4 separate regions of the Homo sapiens genome follow, and all the other regions are reported to be linked to region 1. The links are microRNA targets in miRTarBase. Many come from high-throughput screens and were not tested one by one. Region 1 holds a microRNA gene; each other region holds the end of a gene's coding sequence.
The links. The annotated mature microRNA hsa-miR-4471 reads UGGGAACUUAGUAGAGGUUUAA and lies in region 1 at 3,099-3,120, opposite strand. An mRNA with a match to its seed (bases 2 to 7 or 8) in the 3' UTR can be bound and repressed. Matches are read on the target gene's strand: a 7mer-m8 pairs with bases 2 to 8, a 7mer-A1 pairs with bases 2 to 7 and ends in A, and an 8mer does both.

Region 1 (5,364 bases):
AAAGTGTACACTTCAGTGGGTTTTAGAACATTCACTATATTGTACAACTATTACCACTTTCTAATTCCAGAACATTTTCTTCACTCCAAAAAGAAACCAGTATGCTAAGTGAAATAAGCCAGCCACAAAAGGATAAATATATACCGTAGGATTCTCCTTATATGAGGGGAGTTGTCAAAGTCAGTGAGACAGAAAGTTGAATTGTGGTTGCCAGGGGCTGTGGGGAGGGAAGAATGGGGAGTTACTGTTTAATGGACACAGAATTTCAATTTCTAAGAAGAAAAGAGACACGGAGATGGCAGGTGGAGATGGCTACATACATTATAAAGGTATTTAATACCACTGAAGTGTCTACTTAAATGGTTAAGTTAGTAAATTGTATGTTATGTGTATTTTACCACAATAAAAATAATTTTGGTAAATACCACAATGAAAAAAATTGGGAAAGGAATCCCTGTAGGTACCTTGTAAATAGTAAAATATTATTGAATCATTTTTGCTAATAGTTTTCATTTGTTAAATGTAAACATTCAAAATACACCAAGTATTAAGAAAAAAAAAGGAGCCCATAGCTATTAGCAGTTATTCTCCATTCTCACCTTCCTCCAGTTCCTGGCAGCCACTAATCCACTTTCTGTTAGATCTCCTTACTGAGGACATTTCATACAAATGGTATCATACAATAACATGACCTTGTGTGTCTGGCTTCTATCACTTAGCATAGTGTTTTCAACATTCATCCATATTGTAGCATATATCAGTACTTCATCCCCTTTTATGGTGACATATGTGGGCTTTTTAAAGTAGATTCCAGGCTGAGAGATAAGAGTCTTTCCCTCCTAAGGTTTCCTCCTGGAAGTAGAGCTTAGGCATATCTGAGCTGGGGAGCACACAGGTCTAGGAGGCTTCATTGTACGAACTCACCACGTGGCCCAAATGTTTTGCCCCGTACAGGCTCCCTTTTCCCTCTTTAGTGGGAGAGGCCCCATAACAGGGGGCCCTGCTTTCAGACTCAGCTGGGATACTATGACCCCTGGTCAGGTCTTTAATAGTGATATAACTCAGAGATGTCATGGTACCAGTGGCCACTCTGTAACTGGTGCTTTTGCTTAAATATAAACACGTATCACAGAGGAGAAATTCTGCTAGACATTCTGCTAATTGCAACTGAATGTAGCCTGTGATAACCAAACCCACTCTTCTGAAGCACGGTTCACTTTGGAGCATACCCTGTTGCACATGCCGCTTGGAATCAGAGGTAAACCAGACCCATTTAAGCTATGGCTAAATATAATGTGCTGCCTTGCTGCAGAGCCTGGGGAAGCCTGGCGGTGGGTCATGTGGGGAGGGTGGGCCACTGCTCTATTTCAGCAGGAAGTTGCTGTGCTTTCCTTGTTTTATAAAATGTCCCCAAATATGGAGGCTTTATAATGGGTAAAGCAGTGATCCAGCTGGACTCATTCTAGATATGCTATGATTTATCACCGTATAAAGGGGTAAGAAAGATCACTTCATGTTTCAAAGCACTGATCTCTTTTAGGAAGTTACACTGGGCATTCAAAATTTTTGTGTAATTTTATTTCTTGCTTTTTTTTTTTTTTTTTTTTTTTTTTAGATATAGGGTCTCTCTCTGTCACCCAGGCTGAAGTGCTGTGGCACAATCATAGCTCACTGTAACCTCAAACTCCTGGGCCCAATTGATCCTCTTACCTCAGCCTCCCAAGTAGCTAGGACTACCAGGGCATGTCACCATGCACAGCTAAGTTTTGGTTTTTCAAAAAAATGTTCACAGTGACAGGATCTCATTATGTTGCCCAGGCTGGTCTGGAACTCCTGGCCTCAAGTGATCCTCCCACCTTGGCCTCCACCAGCATTGGAATTACAGGAGTGAGACACTGTGCCTGATCAATTTTCTTTTTTATATGTGTTACTTTCTACAATTTCTTTGCTAGCTGACTTTGAAGATTCTTCTTTGGAATAGATGTGATGTTCAGGAACCAGGAGGATTTTCCTCGTCCAAGTTCATGGGTAATTTGGTGGGTTTTCTTGGAGAGTTTAAGTAGAATTTAATTGTGAATATTTGAGTGTTTGAGATAGGGAGGGAGGAGATGGCCTGAAGGATAGTCACTACTTACTTGATGGCAAGACATAATTAATGGGAATGTTCAGCATTATTTTCCTCTAAAACATGAAGTTCTACATGATTCTTATATGAACGTGGGCTGAGAAAGCATGCTGTGTTGTGTACATTATCTGGCTTCAAGAATTCATTATAATGAGATCAACAAAGCATGAGTACTGCCAGCCATGCACTCAGTGGCACCCACTGTTGTTGGGCTGATATACCTTCTCATTGCCACTTGCCTACCTCCAATTCTAAAATGCTTTTTTCAGCCTCTCTTGCAGCTAGGAAAAACATATGACATAGTTACACATACAAAGCTTTTACTTTTCTGATAAAAGGGGGAAATATTCCCAGTGTGACCCCCTTCTTCTCCTCTTCCTTGAAAGTGGTGTGATGCCTGGAGCCACAGCAGCCTTCTTGAGGCAGTCATCTTGTTATGATAAGGAAAGGCCAAGAGAACTGTCAAATTGTTAGCTCTGGCATCACATCACTGAGCTGATGAATCAGCACCATTGTTGTACTTTTAACCTTCATGTTGTTTGAGAAACATAAACCCCTATTTGTGGAATTTACTTTTAGTCAGAGTTTTGCTAACAGATATAGTTCATGGAAAGAATTTTGCTTTACTAGTATTTACTCTAATACGTCTACCTAAATATCCACCATGTCCTCTTTGTCTCTCTCCCGTATATTTCAGCACTGCCTAAAGTCTGTATTTATTGTTCCCATGGTTTTTCATTTTTATTTTTTTTTCTGAGATGGAGTCTCACTCTGTCTCCCAGGCTGGAGTGCAGTGGCGTGATCTCGGCTCACTGCAACCTCCACCTCCCAGGTTCAAGCAATTCTCCTGCCTCAGCCTCCTGAGTAGCTGGGATTACAGGCATGCACCATTAGATTTTGAAAATGAAACTTACTCATAAATATATTTCTTTCAAAATGAATTTTATAACTCTTTTCCCTTCAAATTTAAAACTTAAACCTCTACTAAGTTCCCATGGGTTCTTTTCATGGAAACTTAGTAGAGGTTTAAGTTTTAAATTTGGAAGGAAAAGATTTACAAAATTCATTTTGAAAGAAATATATTTATGAGTAAGTTTCATTTTCAAAATCTAATGTGTGATCACTTCATTTAGATTAAACTGTTGCCTGGTGCACTTGCAACCCACACATGGCAGAATTAGTTGGTGTGGGAGAAGGAAAGGGAAACTCTGACTGCATAGGGTCAAAAGCTGTTTGATGACAGGTCCGTTTGTGCATAAGGACAATACTTTTAGAAACCCATAACCTTAGCAACCTCAAATGCCAAAAGCAGAGTGTGAAATAACCAAACTAGAAAAAAAAATGGAGGCCTTATTGATCTTCATCGCACTAATACACCCTTACCATTTTAAAGAAAAGTATACTTTTTAGAAGAAAAAAGAAACCTATGTTTTTAAATTTTTTTAATTACTCCCTTGAACATGTGTGTGTGGTTTCTTTAGGAGAGTCTGGGTAGTTGACATTGTTTTGTCTACTAAGGATATGAGTCTATTGTATCATGTAATTTCCTGTTTATTAGGACCCTTGGGGGAAAATTTCTGTCTGCTCATGGGAGCCCAAATATTTGTAACTGAGCAACAGGTTTATTTTAATCTCATGAATATTGTAGGTGATTTAATTGTCAATGGGCTGCTTATTTTTGTTTTCTTGGTTGCTTTTTAAAAAAGTTATTTAAAAAGGTACACAAGTCACATGACATTAGTTCCTATTAAAAAAGATTGAGTTAATTCAGTCAGATTTTTATGTAACATCCAAGAGTGACTCTGTCCCATAATACACCCTCTGCTTCACTTGATGTTTTCTAGCGTTGACTCAGGATATGCAGTAGTAACTAACATCACATGAATTTTCAAAATTGCATTTATTTTTAGCACCAACTTTAAGGATTTTTATTATGACAATAGAGGTTAATGAGCATTTTCACAAGATAAACAAAAAATCCCCCCAAATATGTAAGTGTTTTAACATAATGATTGCAGTTTATTTTTCACTCAGGTCAAATCCAAGATGGGTGTTCCTGATCTGCCTGTAGCTCTCCTCCAACCCAGACTCCTTTCAAACTGTGCCTCCACCATCTTCAATATGGAGCTTCCAAGATTGCCCTGCTGCCCTGCATCAAGCCTGCAAAAGAGGATAGGGGGTCAGGCCACTCATATTTCATTGGCCCAAATTCAGTCACATGGCCACACTCACTGCAAGGGAAGCTGGGAAATGGAGTCTAGCTCTGTGCCCAAGAAGCAAAGAAAAACAGATTTGATGAAGACTTAGTCAATCTCTGCAACAATGAAACAGATAAGAAGGCAAAAGAAAAAGAATTTTACAACCTGAGGAGGGAGAGAAAATTCAGTTAACAAAAAGATAGACTACATGCCAAGGTAGTCTGCAGAATTCTACCTACCCAAATTATGTGTTAAATTGTGAAAGAAGTTATGATAAAAATAGGATGAGGGTGAAATTTGAAAAATGCTCTGGGGACACATAGCACACTCCTTCCCTGGTGACACAGTAGGCAGAACCAAGCCAACTATAAAAGGAAGCTCAGTGTGTTTAATCTGTTGCTCGGATAAAACCATCCTGGAAAAACTCCCAGTTTTACAATCTAACTGATCATCAGTATCTCAGTTATACAAATAACTCCAGCCTGCATGAAATACCTTCTTGCTCCCCTTGACTTGTAAAAATAACTTTGTTTCAATGGAAAAGGTGTAGAAAATGGACGTTGAAGCCAATCAAACTCATAGTATCAATACTTTGTGTTAAGCTTTAGGAGTAAGTTTTGTAATCATTGCAATCAGCTTGTTTTTGTTATTTAAGCAGCTTAAAATGATTAAGATAATCTGACATATTAGCCTTACGATTTTATTTTGGAATGATAAACTAATACTCAATTTGTAATTTTCACTTGAAAGTTGCAGAATAATTGAATATGTTCTTTAAAAGTGTTTGAATATTCAGAAGAATCTAATTTACTACATGTATAAACTAGTATTATTACAAGAGTTCATTGAGATATTGAAGGATTTTTCTTGCTTTGTTTGTAAATGTTGCCCCATCAGGCATTTGAAGTGTTTGAGAAAGTCAAAGTTATTAAATTTGTAAAGATAGTTAAAAATATTTTAGGAAATCTTTTTACATGTATAAAGATGGTCAGTTTGAAGAAATTTAATGTTTTTAAGTTTGTAAGTTGATTGAACACTAAT
Region 2 (5,181 bases), not on the chromosome of region 1:
TCAATAGGCCTGAGAAAGTGGGATATGAGCCAGCACTACGGTGTCTGGTGTCTGACCTTCCCCTATGCGCCTCTTCTCTCTACAGGGCATCATGGTGGGAGGCTTGAAGAGGAAACACTCTGATTTGGAAGAGGAGGAGGAGAGGTGGGAGTGGAGTCCAGCAGGCCTTCAGAGCTACCAGCAAGCCCTGCTCCGCATCTCCCTAGACAAAGTCCAGCGCAGCCTGGGCCCCCGAGCACCCAGCCTCCGCAGGCATGTCCTCATCCATAACACCCTCCAACAGCTGCAGGCTGCACTTCGCCTGGCTCCCGCCCCTGCCCTGCCCCCCGAGCCCCTCTTCCTGGGCGAGGAGGATTTCTCCCTGTCAGCCACCATTGGCTCTATCCTCAGGGAGCTGGACACCTCCATGGATGGGACTGAGCCCCCTCAGAATCCAGTGACTCCCCTTGGCCTCCAGAATGAAGTGCCACCCCAGCCTGATCCAGTCTTCTTAGAAGCTCTGAGCTCCCGGTACTTGGGGGACTCTGGCCTGGATGACTTCTTTCTGGACATTGACACATCTGCGGTAGAAAAGGAGCCTGCACGGGCCCCACCAGAGCCTCCTCACAACCTCTTCTGTGCCCCAGGTTCTTGGGAGTGGAATGAACTGGATCACATCATGGAAATCATTCTGGGGTCCTAAAACTGTGATAGAGGGGATCGATCCTTCCTCATGTCATCTTCGGTGGCCTGGATCCCTGAATGCAACTCTGGGTGTGTGTTTTTGTGGGGGCTCGAAGCAGTGACTATGGCCTCCTTTGTTCCCATTTCAGGGTTCCACAAACTGTCTTGCATGTGTGTGTGTGTCTGGTTACCCCGACCTTCTGTGAAGGTGGGTCTTCCTGAATTAATTTATCTATTCCAAATGCCTTAACGAGACTCTGTTTCTGGGAGTCTGATTTTCCACTTACACATTTCTTCCACCTTTCCTGCTAGTTCCCACTCCCCTGTGACCACTGGGGCCTCAGGGAAGATAAAGAAAGCTGGGCCTGTCGAAGGATGACAGGGATGTGCTGCCAGGTTGCTATAGAAACCCAGGCTCTGCCTCTTGCACCTTGAGGGGGTGGGAGGGGCTGGTGTCCTCCCTCCAGGCTGAACCCCACTTCCTCGGCAGGACCCCAGTCTCAGCAGCCTCCTGATTTCATAACCAGGCCGGACCACGTGCAATAGGGTGGAAACCAAACTGCTCCATGCCGGGTTATTTAAAAGAAAGGCAGAGTTTGTGGTGGCTTTTTTTTTTTTTTTTGGATTGTTTGTAATTTTTTTAAATAAAAGTATTTTGGAAGGAGGGATGTTGTCTAATGTTTCTAAACTTCACTGGGTCAGTGGGAGGGACCTGGTAAGTTCCTAAACATCAGCACCACTTCCGTGCCATAGCTGGGGTAGGTGTATCATTGTACATGACATTTATTGAGTGCTTGTTGGCTGAGTGCTCTAGCTCCCACTTGGAATCCTAGCACTTTGGGAGGATCTGCTTGAGGCCAGCCTGGGAAATGTGGCGAAACACTGCCTCTACAAAAAATACAAAAAGGAGCTAGGCATGGCGGCCTGTAGTCCCAGTTACTGGGGAGGCTGAGTTGGGAGGATCACCTGAGCCTGGGAGGTTGAGGCTGCAGTAAGCCATGGTCACACCACTGCACTCCAGCCTCAGAAAAAAATTAGTGCTTGTTAAGAGCACTGTTCTAGCCACTTTATTTGAATTAAGTCTGTTAATCCTCATATAGAAGTAAGTACTGTTACCACTTTTTATACAGGAGGAACCAGAAGTTTAGAGAGGACAAGTCACTTAATTCAGAGCCACACAGCTAGGAAGAACAAGGACCAGGGAGCTAGGCTGAAATGGCCTCCAGAGCCTTGTCCTTCACTATTATAAATGTTGCTTCTTAGACTAACCAGCCACGTGGGTGGGCACAGGAGGGAGAAACTGAGTCACACGGAGTATGTGTCACTGAATGTGCTGCTGAGCCCAGAGGGGCAAGAAAATGCCCAAAGACCCCCAGTACTAAAAGACCTCTTTAGGAGAGTTGGCTAGGAAGCAGAGCCCAGATTAGATTTATAGTGCTAATGCTTTTTTTTTTTTTTTTTTTTTGAGACGGAGTCTCACTCTGTCACCCAGGCTGGAGTGCAATGACAGGATTTTGGCTCACTGCAACCTCCACTCCCGGGTTCAGGCAATTCTCCTGCCTCAGCCTCCCGAATAGCAGTGACTACAGGTGCTTGCCACCACGCCCAGCTAATTTTTGTATTTTTTTTAAAATAGAGACAGTTTCACCATGTTGGCCAGGCTTGTCTCCAACTCCTAACCTCAAGTGACCCGCCTGCCTCAGCCTCCCAAAGTGCTGGGATTACAGGCATGAGCCACTGTGCCTGACCTGTGCTGATGCTTTATTTCGGAGGTACGAGCCCAGGCTGCTGAGATACAGGAGAGGAGAAGGAGGTGAAGGAAGTGAAGGAAGAGGTAATGTGATACCTGTACAGGCTATGCCTTTACAATGGTCTTTGAAGAGATGAAGCAAGTGAGCTACACAGCATTAGGGACTTTTCTGGAAGGGCTGCGAGGAGGAACAACACCTGAGTATAGTCCATGGGTGGAGAAAGGATGGGGATTTTGCTTGTGGTTTCTGGGTCAAAGCCAGATTTCTCAACCTGAAGGGGTCATTGTCAGAAAGTGGAGGGATAACCTGAAGAGGTGGGTGCCAATCCAGAGAGAGGAATGAGGTGGCCCAGAGGATCTAAAGAAAGCAACCAGGTACAGGCCAGGCGCGGTGGCTCAGGCCTGTAATTCCAGTACTTAGGGAGGCCAAGGCGGGAGGATTGCCTGAAGTGAGGAGTTTGAGACCAGCCTGGCCAACATGGCGAAGCCCTGTCTCTACTAAAAATACAAAAAATTAGCTGGGCATGGTGGCAAACACCTGTGGTCCCAGCTACTCAGGAGGCTGAGGCAGGAGAATCACTTGAATCCAGGAGGCACAGGTTGCAGTGAGCTGAGATCATACCACTGCACTCCAGCCTGAGTGACAGAGCGAGATTCCATCTCAAAAAAAAAAAAAAAAAAGCAACCAGGTGTGATACTTGCTGTGGAATTGTAAAAAATAAAAATAAAAGGTAAGCAACCAGGTCTGCATCCCAATATGATGGCAATTGAATCATGTCTTCCTCCTTGAAACCTTCAGTGCCTTTTTTTTTTTTTTTTTCTTTTGAGACAGGGTCTCTGGCTCTGTCGCCCAGGCTGGAGTGCAGTGGTACAATCACAGCTTACTGCAACCTCCACCTCATGGACTCAAGCAATTCTCCCACCTCAGCCTCAGCCTCCCAAGTAGCTGGGACTACAGGCACGTGGACCACACCTGACTAATTTTTGTATTTTTTGTAGAGATGGGGTTGTGCCATGTAGCCCAGGCTGGTCTTGAACTCCTGGAATCAAGCGATCCTCACATCTCAGCCTCCCAAAGTGCTGGGATTACAGGCATGAGCCACCACGCCCAGCCTCCAGTGACTTCTTGACACACTCAATAAAGCGCCAGCTCCACCAAGACCTGCAAGGACTGACTTATTCTCACTTCGGACAACTTTCTCAGTTCCATCTCCCACTCTCTCCATCACTCAACTGGGCTCCCTTGACCCCAGCTCCTTCTCACCCCAGGGCCTTTGCCCTAACTGTTAAATTTTCCCAGTGGACATTTTCCCCAATAGCTTCACCAATCCCAATATCCCCTTCTCAGGGAGGTCTTCCTTGCCCTTCCTAGCTCAACACATCCAGGTGGGTCACCACCCCACCACAACTTGTTTGATTTTCTTTCTTTCTTTTTTTTTGAGATGGAGTCTTGCTCTGTCTCCTAGAATGGAGTGTAGTGGCATGATCTTGGCTCACTGCAGCCTCTACCTCCCAGTTCCAGCAATTCTTCTACCTTAGCCTTCCGAGTAGCTGGGATTACAGGCACATGCCACCACACCTGGCTAATTTTTTTTTTTTTTTTTTGACACGGAGTTTTACTCTTGTTGCCCAGGCTGGAGTGCAATGACGCGATCTTGGCTCACCACAACCTCCGCCTCCTGGGTTCAAGTGATTCTCCTGCCTCAGCCTCTCGAACAGCTGGGATTACAGGCATGCGCCACCACACCCAGCTGATTTTGTATTTTCAGTAGAGACAACGTTTCTCCATATTGGTCAGGCTGGTCTTGAACTCCTGACCTCAGGTGATCCGCCCGCCTCGGCCTCCCAAAGTGCTGGGATTACAGGCATGAGCCACTGCACCTGGACTGATTTTGTTTTAGTAGCATCTACCCAATCTCGAGTTACTTATTTCCCATCTATAGGTAGCCTCCTACTCTCCTGGGAACTCTGAGGGTTGTGTTGGTCTGTGCCTAGAACTATGCTTGGCACAACTGCACTCTCCAAAATTATTTGTTGTTGAAGGGTCAGGCACGGTAGCTCACGCCTATAATCCCAGCACTTTGGGAGGCCAAGGCGGTCGGATCACCTGAGGCTAGGAGTTCGAAACCAGCCTGACCACCATGGAAAAACCCTGTCTCTACTAAAAATACAAAATTAGCCAGGCGTAGTGGCACATGGCTATAATCCCAGCTACTCAGGAGGCTGAGGCAGGAGAATCACTTGAACCCAGGAGGCGGAGGTTGTGGTGAGCTGAGATCGTGCCATTGCACTCCAGCCTGGGCAACAAGAGCGAAACTCCATCTCAAAAAAAAAAAAAATTATTTGTTGTTGAAAAACTTGGCCAGGTGCAGTGGTTCACGCCTGTAATCCCAGCATTTTGGGAGGCTGAGGCAGGAAGATCGCTTGTGTCCAGTTCAAGACCAGCCTGGGCAACACAGGGAGACCCCATCTCTACAAAAAACTAAAATAAAATTAGCTGGGCTGATGGCATGCCCTTGTAGTCCCACCTACTCAGGAGGCTGAGGTGGGAGGATCGCTCGAGCTCAGGAAATGGAGGCTGTGAGCAGAGATAACACCACTGCACTCCAGCACTCCATCTGGAACAGAGCAACAGAGGGAGGTCCTGTCTCAAAAAAAAAAAAAAAAAAAAAAAAAGGCCGGGTGCGGTGGCTCACACCTGTAATTCCAGCACTTTGGGAGGCCGAGGCGGGCAGATCACGAGGTCAGGAGATTGAGACCATCCTGGC
Region 3 (5,181 bases), not on the chromosome of region 1:
GGGGGTGACACTGTGCACTTGGTGGCCTGGGCCCCACTGACCCCCAGCCTATCACCACAGGACCTGCACACAAACAGCCCAAGGCACAGCAAGGGCTCCTACAATGACTTCAGCTTCGTGACGCACACCAATAGAGAGGGCGTCCCCATGCGTAAGGGCGAGCACCTGGGCGAGTTCAACCTGGGCTCCACCATCGTGCTCATCTTCGAGGCCCCCAAGGACTTCAATTTCCAGCTGAAAACAGGACAGAAAATCCGCTTTGGGGAAGCCCTGGGCTCGCTCTAGAGTCTCTTTCCTGATTATGGCTGCTAAGGGATCTTTTCCAAACAGAGTGAGGGTCTTTTCAAGAGGGAGGCCCATGAGGCCATCCAGGTAAGGGCCTGCCTCAGCGTGGTTGGGAGTCTGACCAGGTAGGACTTGAATGATTCGGCTACCACCTGTTCCAGAGGTGCAGACAAGAGGTGGCGAGAGCCCCCATCATGCCCCTCAACCTATCCCGTTCCTTCTGCCTACAAATAAAAAGTGCAGGCTGGAATGATCTCAGTCACATTTGGATCTTTTTAAACACTGTATAGACGGAAGAGCCTGCATTCCTGACCGAACCTTCAGTTGGTCTCGGTTGTCGTTTTTTCTTGCTGCTCCTCCCCCCATCACCTGAGCTGTTTTCTGTTGGCCCCTTTTGTTTTTTGGCCTTAACGCTCCTGCTGCACAGGGTGAGGTGCCTCCTTGGCACAGACTGTGGATGCCTCTCCCCCAGCAGAGCCACACAGCCTTCGTGACAACTGCTTTCCGTTCCCACATTCACCTCATCCTGCTCTTTAGAAAAAGCAGTCTTTGTGCTTGTGGCTGAACGCATCACCCTGGACTCTGCTAGTGTCTTCTGAGGACACTGATGACACTGATTAATGATACAGACCTTTGCAGGACCTGATGAGTGACCCTTCTGGAGCTGGCCAGGTCCTCTGCAGCAGGCAAGACCAATCAATCACTGAACCTGCCTCATGGCACCAGAGTGAACAGGGCAGGCAGGTAGTAGGCCCAGCTGGGGAAATGGGAGAGTTCCTGTCCCCCTCCACATATCCCTACATGAAATATGGGAAAGTTGCTGCTATTGATTCAGGGTCTGTCTTGGAGGCAGAGGACCCTTGGTGGATAGTTGGTCAGTGCCTGGAAAACCTGTCCCAGTTTATCAGGAACGCAGGCCTGGGGAGCCCCCAGTGGCGGGGACAGGGCCAGATTTCATGTTGACCCTGGGGATGCTGTGAATTTCTCCTGCAGGAGAGACATCATTGAATTTTTTCAACTGTATCAGTAGCACAGTATTTTTGTATGAAAAGTGGGAGACTTCTGAACAGTAATTCATTTAATTGCAAAGCATTTTGAAATAAAAAAAATCAAACTTAAAACTGTGTTCTGTTCCTGGAGGTGGCCTGAGGCCTCCCCGACAGCCCAGCACCTGCGTTCCTGGTGCGAACACGCTAGCACAGGGCCTGCCGCAGGGCCTGGATGCGGGCAACGCAGGCGCCAATGGGCTGGCGCTGAGCCTGGAGCTCCTCTGCCAGCAGCTGGATCTGCATTTCCACCTGGGGCCATGGAGGGACAGGCAGGGCTGAGAGGGAGCACAGCCCGGGGCGTCCCCAGGGACACCTGGGGATGGCCTGGGGCCTCACCTGTTCCAGCTCTTTCTGCACCTGCTGCTCTACTTCCTGGTCCTCAGGCCCCGGCTCCTCTCTGTTCAGCTCCAGCCACCTGCGCAGGCTGCTCGCTTGCCGCCGACAGGACCTGAGGGGTGGAGATACCCACTGCCTGCCAGGCTGGGTCCTTGGCAGAGCCCCATCCGGCTCAGGGAGAGGCACCTCAGCTAATTCTGATGCGGGTATCGGGTGGAGAGAGGTGGTCTGGTAGGGCCCCTGACCTGAACTGCAGGCCCCTGCTTGGGAGCCAAACACTTGTTCTTTTTCCTCTCCCAGTCTCCTCCGCCCTCCCCAGCAGACAGCAACTCAGGTGGGCCTGGGCAAGAACACACTCCTTGTCTCTCTCCCCCTGTGCAGAGCCAAGGATGAGGCGCCAGTCTGTTGCCCTGGAAGCTCTGAGGTTGCTGCATGTTGAATGGTCCCCAGACCACTGAGTGCAGCTGAGTCACGGGCCTGTCTCCTCTGCATTTTTTTTTTTTTTTGAGATGGAGTGTTGCTGTGTTGCCCAGGCTGGAGTGCAATGGCGTGATCTCAGCTCACTGCAACCTCCGCCTCCCAGGTTGAAGCGATTCTTCTGCCTCAGCCTTCCAAGTAGTTGGGACTACATGCGTGCACCACCATGCCCGGCTAATTTTTGTATTTTTAGTAGAGATGGGGTTTCACCATATTGGCCAGGCTGGTCTTGAACTCCTAACCCCGTGATCTGCCTGGATCACAGCCTCTCAAAGTGCTGGGATGACAGGTGTGAGTCACTGCGCCTGGCCCTTCTCTGCACCTTTAATATCAGTGTTATAATTAGTCACTGGGGACAGCATGGCCTCATCGGGTTTTTAGAGTTTTGCTCAACTTTATCGTCCCCCCCATAGGAAGCAGAGCCTCTGTGCACAGGTGAGTCTGACGACTTGGGCCTTCCTAAGCAGCACTGAGCCGGGTAGAGAGCCATGGTGGAGATGGGGTCTTTCTGGACAGCACACACTGAGGGCTCCCCACACCCCTCCATGGCTAGACCGAGACCACCTACAGGACCCTGGCAGCTGGCTCGGGGGAAATGGAACTGCCTGCCCACCTCTCCAGGCAACACCTGCTCCTGTAGCCAGGGCTGCAGGGCGTTTCGCAGGGCTCACCAGAGGTTCTGCTTGGTGGTCTGGTAGTGCAGTAGTTGCTGCTGGATCTCCTCAAGTTCAGCCTCAAGGTCCAGGCTGCCTATGGCGACAGAAGTAAGCTTGTTTCAGACTATTTTCCCCTCGGGGACCAGGGTAAATAGCAAGTCCCAGGTCCGGGAGTGGCCTGAGTGCTTTCTGCCCTGACAGGCCCCAGGTACACACCTGCAGTTGAAAGTCCAGGCCCAGCCCTGGTGGCTGAGAAGTCCCCAGGAAGGAGTAGATGGGGGTCAGGGACACTGGCCAGGGATGAGGGGACCGGGGGCTTATCCCTAGGAGTAGCCCGCTGTGCTGACACCTGCAAAGGAAAGAAGGGTAGATGCTGAGCAAGGAAGCTAGGAGGAAGCCAGGGAGGGGGACACCAAGTCCTTGTCACTGCCTGCCCTGCAGGGGTGGGGGAAGACCAGGCTCCCAGCTGCAGGAGCTGGGCTTCCCAGGCACTGGCCGTGCCAGCTCAGTGTCTAGCCTGCCCCTGCACACAGGGCCTGGTACTGTAGGGGAAAGTCCCGCAAGCAACCAGGGAGCACCCCGTGTCACCACAGTCCGCCTCACGCCTCCACTGCCTGAGCAGCTGTTCCTAGCCTTGCCTTACCCAACCCTCCACCCCCACCTGCTCTAAGCTCATGACCTTGCTGAGCTTTGACATCAGTGAGAAGTGGTCAGTGAGAGGCCACTGCTCTACAGCCTTTTCCATGCCCTCCTCTCCTGGTGAGAGTGGACTTGCCCCTTCCATCACCGGACAGGGGTCAAAACCCTTTCAAACCCACATTCAAACCATTCCAGCCAGGGTAAGTGGCCCCACATGGCCTAACTCACCACAGGAACTGGTTCCTTCCTGTCCCCTCATCCCCTTTCAGGAACCAGCTGCTTTGGTGGCCTTAGAGCAGCTGTCACTTCCATTACTGAGCTCTCACACCCCCTGGCCATCCCCACCCAGGCTCCCTGCTTGGAGCCTCCTCCCCTCTCTCCTTCCCCTGTACTCTCCTCCTAGAGGCCGCAGTGGCTCTGGGGTTACCTTCGGCCTGTGCTGAAGATTCTTCTCAATCTCTGGCCCTGACCTCTTCCTTGAAGGTCAGACTCAACGTTTGCTTTCTCTCAAATTTGACATCAAGAGCCTGGTTCAAAACACTCTTGACACTTCACCCCAAACCAGTCCCCACCCCCAGTTCCTTCTTCCAGTCAAAGAACTCTGTTTCCCAAGTTATTCAAGCCAGCAGCCCACATCAGCCTGGATTCCTTCTTTCCCCTCATTCAGCAACTCCCTCAGAGCAGCATATCCTGCCTCATCTGCCTCCAAGAGAGTACCTGTCCCCTCTGTGGCAACCGCTGAGCCCAGGCCACCAGTACTACTTGCCTGGACCACGTGGTCATGGTGACCACAGCCTGCACAGAAACCTGACATGGTGCTCCCTGCCAAAACCCTTCCCCGACTTCCTACTCTTCTCAAATCCCAGGCTACTTCTCACTGTGGCCTGCAGGACCCTACGTGATCTGCAGCCACTTTACTGGCCTGCAGGCAGGGGTTTTTCTTTGCTTGTCTCTGACTAGAATATAAGCTTCAGGATGGCAGGGCCCTTGGCTGGCTGTTCACTGCTGTGGCCCTTGGACCTGGTGTGCAGTGGCTACCTATGCTTGTCAAATGGATGAGTGGCCTCCCTGTGCCAAGGTTTTCCAGAAACTAGTACAGCTGTGGCATGAGAAAGCACCAGAAGTCAGACCAGAGTGAGAGCCCCAGTGCCCAGGCCTGGTGGTGGAGGACGTACCCTGGCTGGTGCAGCCGCCCCGCAGGGCATGAAGGAGGAAAGAGGCAGCAGCAGCAGCTCCGGGCCTGTGCTTGCCGTCGGGGGCTGCTTCGGGCCAGGGGCGCTTGACAGGGCCCCAGGCAGGGGGCTGTGTGGGACCAGTGCTGTCGGGGCCTCTGCCAGGAAGGGCCGCGTCAGGGAGGGGGCTGCTGGCTGAGCCATGCCTAGGCCATGTTCCTGTGGCTTCTGAGGCCTGAGCACAGGGAAGGCAAGAGCCTGGTCAGGCCACAGGACCCTCCTCTGGGACCAAAGAACAAGAAGGAAAGGGGGCCACCCACCCCAGGGCTGCCAAAACACAGGCCCCACATGGAGGTGCCCGCTGCCTTTGGGGACCCCTGACCATCTCCCCCTGCCTGCCCACGGTGCTGCACCCCAGGGACCTCTGGCTCTGCGCAGGCTCCAACAGGAAGTGTGGGCGTCGCGGCTGCTTCCTCGCTGAGTGGGCAGTGTTGCTGGAAAGAAACATGGGGTCTGTTCCCCTGGGCTGACCAGGGGCTGCAGGGGGGTCTGAGATCTCTGTGGGAT
Region 4 (5,181 bases), not on the chromosome of region 1:
GAGGAACTTGAGTCCAAGGCTCGAGCACTGTGGCTTATTGAGTGAGTCCCCTATAAGGTGCCTGACTCCCCAGGGTGGAGACTGCAGGGTAAGAGTGAACAGGTCAACAGTCCCTGCCTGCAAGCACCTTACAGCTAAGGGATAGAATCATTTGGCCCTTGAGTCCAGTCACCCTGTCTGAGTTCATTCAGCATGTTCACTTGTGTTTGCCAGGCACTGGGGCCACAAGGGCACATCATTCTATACTCTGTTCTGCAAGGCTCACCAAGGGCAGGAGAATCTGCCCAACCTTGGATGCCAAGGCCAGGCCCGCCTCTCGTCCCTTCTCTTCCCAGGCCCCCCCGGCCTGCCACTTCAGTCAACTCCACTGAGGAGACTGCCACTACAGTTGTTGCTGCTGCCTCCTCCACCAGCATCCCTAGCTCAGAGGCCACGACCCCAACCCCAGGAGCCTCCCCACCAGCCCCTGAAATGGAAAGGCCTCCAGGTAGGTGTGATTGGCCTCCAGCCGGGGGAGCAGGGAACTTCTCTAGGTTCCACTTCCAGTCTCTCTGTCCCCAGCTCCTGAGTCAGTGGGCACAGAGGAGATGCCTGAGGATGGAGAGCCCGATGCAGCAGAGCTCCGCCGGCGCCGCCTGCAGAAGCTGGAGTCTCCTGTTGCCCACTGACACTGCCCCAGCCCAGCCCCAGCCTCTGCTCTTTTGAGCAGCCCTCGCTGGAACATGTCCTGCCACCAAGTGCCAGCTCCCTCTCTGTCTGCACCAGGGAGTAGTACCCCCAGCTCTGAGAAAGAGGCGGCATCCCCTAGGCCAAGTGGAAAGAGGCTGGGGTTCCCATTTGACTCCAGTCCCAGGCAGCCATGGGGATCTCGGGTCAGTTCCAGCCTTCCTCTCCAACTCTTCAGCCCTGTGTTCTGCTGGGGCCATGAAGGCAGAAGGTTTAGCCTCTGAGAAGCCCTCTTCTTCCCCCACCCCTTTCCAGGAGAAGGGGCTGCCCCTCCAAGCCCTACTTGTATGTGCGGAGTCACACTGCAGTGCCGAACAGTATTAGCTCCCGTTCCCAAGTGTGGACTCCAGAGGGGCTGGAGGCAAGCTATGAACTTGCTCGCTGGCCCACCCCTAAGACTGGTACCCATTTCCTTTTCTTACCCTGATCTCCCCAGAAGCCTCTTGTGGTGGTGGCTGTGCCCCCTATGCCCTGTGGCATTTCTGCGTCTTACTGGCAACCACACAACTCAGGGAAAGGAATGCCTGGGAGTGGGGGTGCAGGCGGGCAGCACTGAGGGACCCTGCCCCGCCCCTCCCCCCAGGCCCCTTTCCTCTGCAGCTTCTCAAGTGAGACTGACCTGTCTCACCCAGCAGCCACTGCCCAGCCGCACTCCAGGCAAGGGCCAGTGCGCCTGCTCCTGACCACTGCAATCCCAGCGCCCAAGGAAGGCCACTTCTCAACTGGCAGAACTTCTGAAGTTTAGAATTGGAATTACTTCCTTACTAGTGTCTTTTGGCTTAAATTTTGTCTTTTGAAGTTGAATGCTTAATCCCGGGAAAGAGGAACAGGAGTGCCAGACTCCTGGTCTTTCCAGTTTAGAAAAGGCTCTGTGCCAAGGAGGGACCACAGGAGCTGGGACCTGCCTGCCCCTGTCTTTTCCCCTTGGTTTTGTGTTACAAGAGTTGTTGGAGACAGTTTCAGATGATTATTTAATTTGTAAATATTGTACAAATTTTAATAGCTTAAATTGTATATACAGCCAAATAAAAACTTGCATTAACAATTGGTGGGGTTTGTGTCACAGAATCGATCAAATCAGTGTCGGGCTCCTTGCTGTGGCTGTACACTTGAAAATGGAATGGAATCTCCAGGAGTGAGGGTTTCCATGGAAGCCAGCACTATCCTTGGGGACACCACTGACCATTAACAGATTAGGAAGATGTGCCCATTTTACACACAGAGAAGCAGCCCAGAGTTCAGTGCCCTGCTTCAGGGCAGAGACCAAGTTGGGGAGTCAGGAACTGAAAGCTGTCTTAGCCAGTTTGGGGGCAGGGTGGGGTCTCAGGCCTTTGGCCCCTGTGACTCCAAGTATAAGGCATATATGAAGGCTAGTGAGCTGGGGTTGGGATGGGATGGCAGGGTGAAAGGTCAGCATATTCCTGCCTGCAAACCCCTCCCCAGCCTTGATTGCAGGTCAGAAGGCTGCAGGGGGATGTCCCTATGCTGGCTGTGAGTTCCCAGCCACTCCCTTGTGGTCAGGCCAGCAAGTCTGGTCTGCAATGGAACAGTGACCAAGAACGTGCCTCCTACCTCTCTATCAGAGCCCGGGGCTAACGTGGGCACTCTGTGCCCCAGTGCCAGCACTGTACTTTGAACAGAAGATCTCCAAGACCCATGCCCGAGTCATCTGTGTTCTCCATCACCTGCACCAAACAAGATCTGGCCTAGAGCAAAGGCTTGGGGGTATTTGCAACAGTGAGCTTCGGAGGGCCAAGGAAACAAAGTGCCCAGTGGCTCTGCCCTGTGCTACCTTCCCCTAAACTGGGGTTGGGCTACTGCTTCCACCAAATAACAACTAGAATTTGAATTGCTGAGCCCAAGGAAAGAAAAACAAAACAGGCCAAGGTGGACCAGGCACATGGCTCATGCCTATAATCCCAACGCTTTGGGAGGCCAAGGTGGGCGGATCACTTCGAGTCAGGAGTTTGAGACCAGCCTGGCCAACATGGTGAAACCCCATCTCTACTAAAAATACAAAAATTAGCAGGCTGTGGTGGTGGGCGCCTGTAATCCCAGCTACTCAAGAGGCTGAGGCAGGAGAATCCCTTGATCCCAGAGGTGGAAGTTGCAGTGAGCCAAGATCATGCCACTGCACTCCACCCTGGGCAACAGAGTGAGACTCCGTCTCAAAAAACAAAAAAGAACAGGCCAAGATAGGAGGGAGAGAAAGCTGCTGACGCCCCCCATTAGCCTGGTGATCCCTATTTGGTCTCCCACATTAGGCACTCTCCCCCAGCATGTACATAGAGTTGTTTTCTCCTTTATGCAAGCAAGGCCTGACCCCAAAGTCCTTTAGCCCTAGTTTCTGTATCCCCTGTCTCAGGGGCTCCAACACCCACCTCCCTCCTCCTGAGGCCCCCTAGACTTGATCCACAGGGCATGCTGACAAGCAGGCTGCTCGGCTGGGCCTCAGAAGCCTTTCTCCAAGAGCCAGGCTTTAAGCTCCTGGTCAAAGTAGCCCTTGATCCGTAGGGTACCTGTCACCTCATTGACCTGGGTGACAGGTGTCTTCCCCAGCAGCGGGCTCAGAAAATCTTCCACGTCTTTCTGCAGGGCCTGGGGAAAGATGACAAATCAGGTCAGGCCAAGAGTCCCTTCCCTTAAAAAGACTCCTGTCCCTTCAGCCCTGAAAGGGTCAGGCCCAGTCCCAGACCCACCCACCCACTTACCCAGATGTCCCCTTCCACTTTCCGGATCACAGTCATCTGCCGGTTGCCATGCGTGATGTCCTTGTAGACGGGGATGTTGTGCATCCGAGAGCGTCGTACAAAGTAAGGCAGGTTGGGTGGGGGGTCTGCAACAGGGAAAGACACTGTTAAATCAACTCTTCCTACGTGCCATCCCACCTCAGCCAAGGCCCTTGCTCTCAGTCTGCAGAGGGCCAGTGCACCCAGCTGGACCAAGCCACCTCCAGACTTTAGGTCAGGGGGTCTCCTCTTTCCTTCAGCTTGGAGTCAGGACCAAATTGTTCACCCTGGTACCCTAAGGCCCCACACAGGGCCTGGCACTAAGTAGGTGCTCAAGAAAAAATGAAATCAGGGACATGCCTCCCTGGATCTTTGGGTCCCCCTCTAGGCCAACCCTTGCCCTCCTCCACTGGGTCAGGGAGGCCGAAATCAATCTCTGGAACAAAGAGATTGGGATTTGCAAGCACTGAGCACCTACCATATGCTGGGCTCTGCACTAAGGGCTCTATGTACTGAGCAGATTATCTCCATTTTGCTAAAACAGGTTGGGTCAAGCTAAGTGACTAATTCAAGATAACATCAACAGTAAATAAAGCCAAATTCAAACCCAGAACTGCCTGACTCCAAGCTGTGTTCTTAATTACAGTACATAGTCTGCTGGGGGGAAAGAAGGTCCAAGCTCTTGGGTTTTCTCTCTGTTGTTTACTTTCCCCCATATGGGGAAGACCTGATCTCAATAGTGTGGATGGATGAGTACCAGTGAACAACAGAAGGCTCCACTCCTCGGCTCTTCCTTGGGCATGAGACAGATGTAACCCAGAGGGATTGCAAAATGAGTCCTGAACCCACTGGAGAGTCCAGAGCCTCATGGGGGAGGCCAACCTCTGGGGAGGAGGTGATGCTCCGTGAAGCTTTCAAATCATCCCTAACCACCCAGCTCACCTCTGGGAGGCTGCCAGCCACTAGGGGTAGGATAATGTTCATGCTTTGGGGGATCTGGGATCCTGGTAGCCGGTAACAGGCGCTCCACAAACTGATATTCATCCACAGACTCCACAAACCTGGGGTAATCTGGAGGGCCCTGGGTCTGGCTCTGAAGCAAAACAAAAATCCCATTTCTCCATTAGCCTACCCAACACAGGATGGCATAACTTCAGTAAGTAGAGAATGGAAACATTACAGGCAGAGAGAATGACATAAATAAAAGGCTGGGCGACGGTGTGAAAGCTATCAGAATCAAAATGGAGTGAGTCACTTGGGTTAAAAATCCCAACAAATAGAGCTAGGGAGGGCCACGAAGAGAGAGTTCTTGGGCACAAATACTTAATAACAAGAACTACCACAAAAGACTGCAAAAACCACAGCCTTGCACAAAGGCCACTTCAACCTTACACAAAAAAATATTTCTGGCTGGGCAAGGTGGCTCACGCCTGTAATCCCAGCACCTTGGAGGCTGAGGCAGGAGGATCATCTAAGGTCAGGAGTTCAACACCAGCCTGGCCAACATGGCGAAACCCCATCTCTACTGAAAATACAAAAATTAGCCGGGCATGGTGGTGCATGCCTGTAATCCCAGCTACTTGGGAGGCTGAGGCAGGAGAATTGCTTGAACCCAGGAGGTGGAGGTTGCAGTGAGCTAAGATCGCACCATTGCACTCCAGCCTCGGTGACAGAGCGACGAGACTCTCTCAAACAAAACAAAACAAAACAAATTCCTGCATGGCCA

Region 2: miRTarBase lists SERTAD3 as a target of hsa-miR-4471. Seed matches in the 3' UTR shown: 7mer-A1 at 800-806 and 8mer at 974-981.
Region 3: the mRNA of PISD is a reported target of hsa-miR-4471. Seed matches in the 3' UTR shown: 7mer-A1 at 792-798.
Region 4: miRTarBase lists SYVN1 as a target of hsa-miR-4471. Seed matches in the 3' UTR shown: 7mer-A1 at 830-836 and 7mer-A1 at 1,056-1,062.

The regions. Positions count from the first base shown.
Region 1 is chr8:100,380,567-100,385,930 of GRCh38, reverse strand. MIR4471 (microRNA 4471) reads right to left here and starts at 3,168; the gene lies at 3,086-3,168. It overlaps LOC124901991 (a long non-coding RNA gene), which reads right to left. Exons shown (of 2, transcript XR_007061030.1): 2 at 4,007-4,285. RefSeq lists an enhancer at 3,258-3,357.
Region 2 is chr19:40,436,991-40,442,171 of GRCh38, reverse strand. SERTAD3 (SERTA domain containing 3) reads left to right here. Exons shown (of 2, transcript NM_203344.3): 2 at 86-1,328. The coding sequence starts at 92. The coding sequence ends at 682. Among named protein-coding and RNA genes, the nearest start is that of SERTAD3, 4.8 kb to the left of the region's middle.
Region 3 is chr22:31,614,716-31,619,896 of GRCh38, reverse strand. It overlaps PISD (phosphatidylserine decarboxylase), which reads left to right. Exons shown (of 8, transcript NM_001326411.2): 8 at 61-1,406. The coding sequence ends at 285. It overlaps SFI1 (SFI1 centrin binding protein), which reads right to left. Exons shown (of 33, transcript NM_001007467.3): 28 at 5,037-5,108; 29 at 4,618-4,849; 30 at 3,020-3,152; 31 at 2,819-2,897; 32 at 1,671-1,782; 33 at 1,309-1,583. The coding sequence ends at 1,479. Among named protein-coding and RNA genes, the nearest start is that of MIR7109, 4.2 kb to the left of the region's middle.
Region 4 is chr11:65,123,869-65,129,049 of GRCh38, reverse strand. SYVN1 (synoviolin 1) reads left to right here. Exons shown (of 16, transcript NM_172230.3): 15 at 336-487; 16 at 562-1,771. The coding sequence ends at 668. It overlaps MRPL49 (mitochondrial ribosomal protein L49), which reads right to left. Exons shown (of 4, transcript NM_004927.4): 2 at 4,398-4,548; 3 at 3,438-3,562; 4 at 1,679-3,324. The coding sequence ends at 3,178. Among named protein-coding and RNA genes, the nearest start is that of MIR6751, 3.5 kb to the left of the region's middle.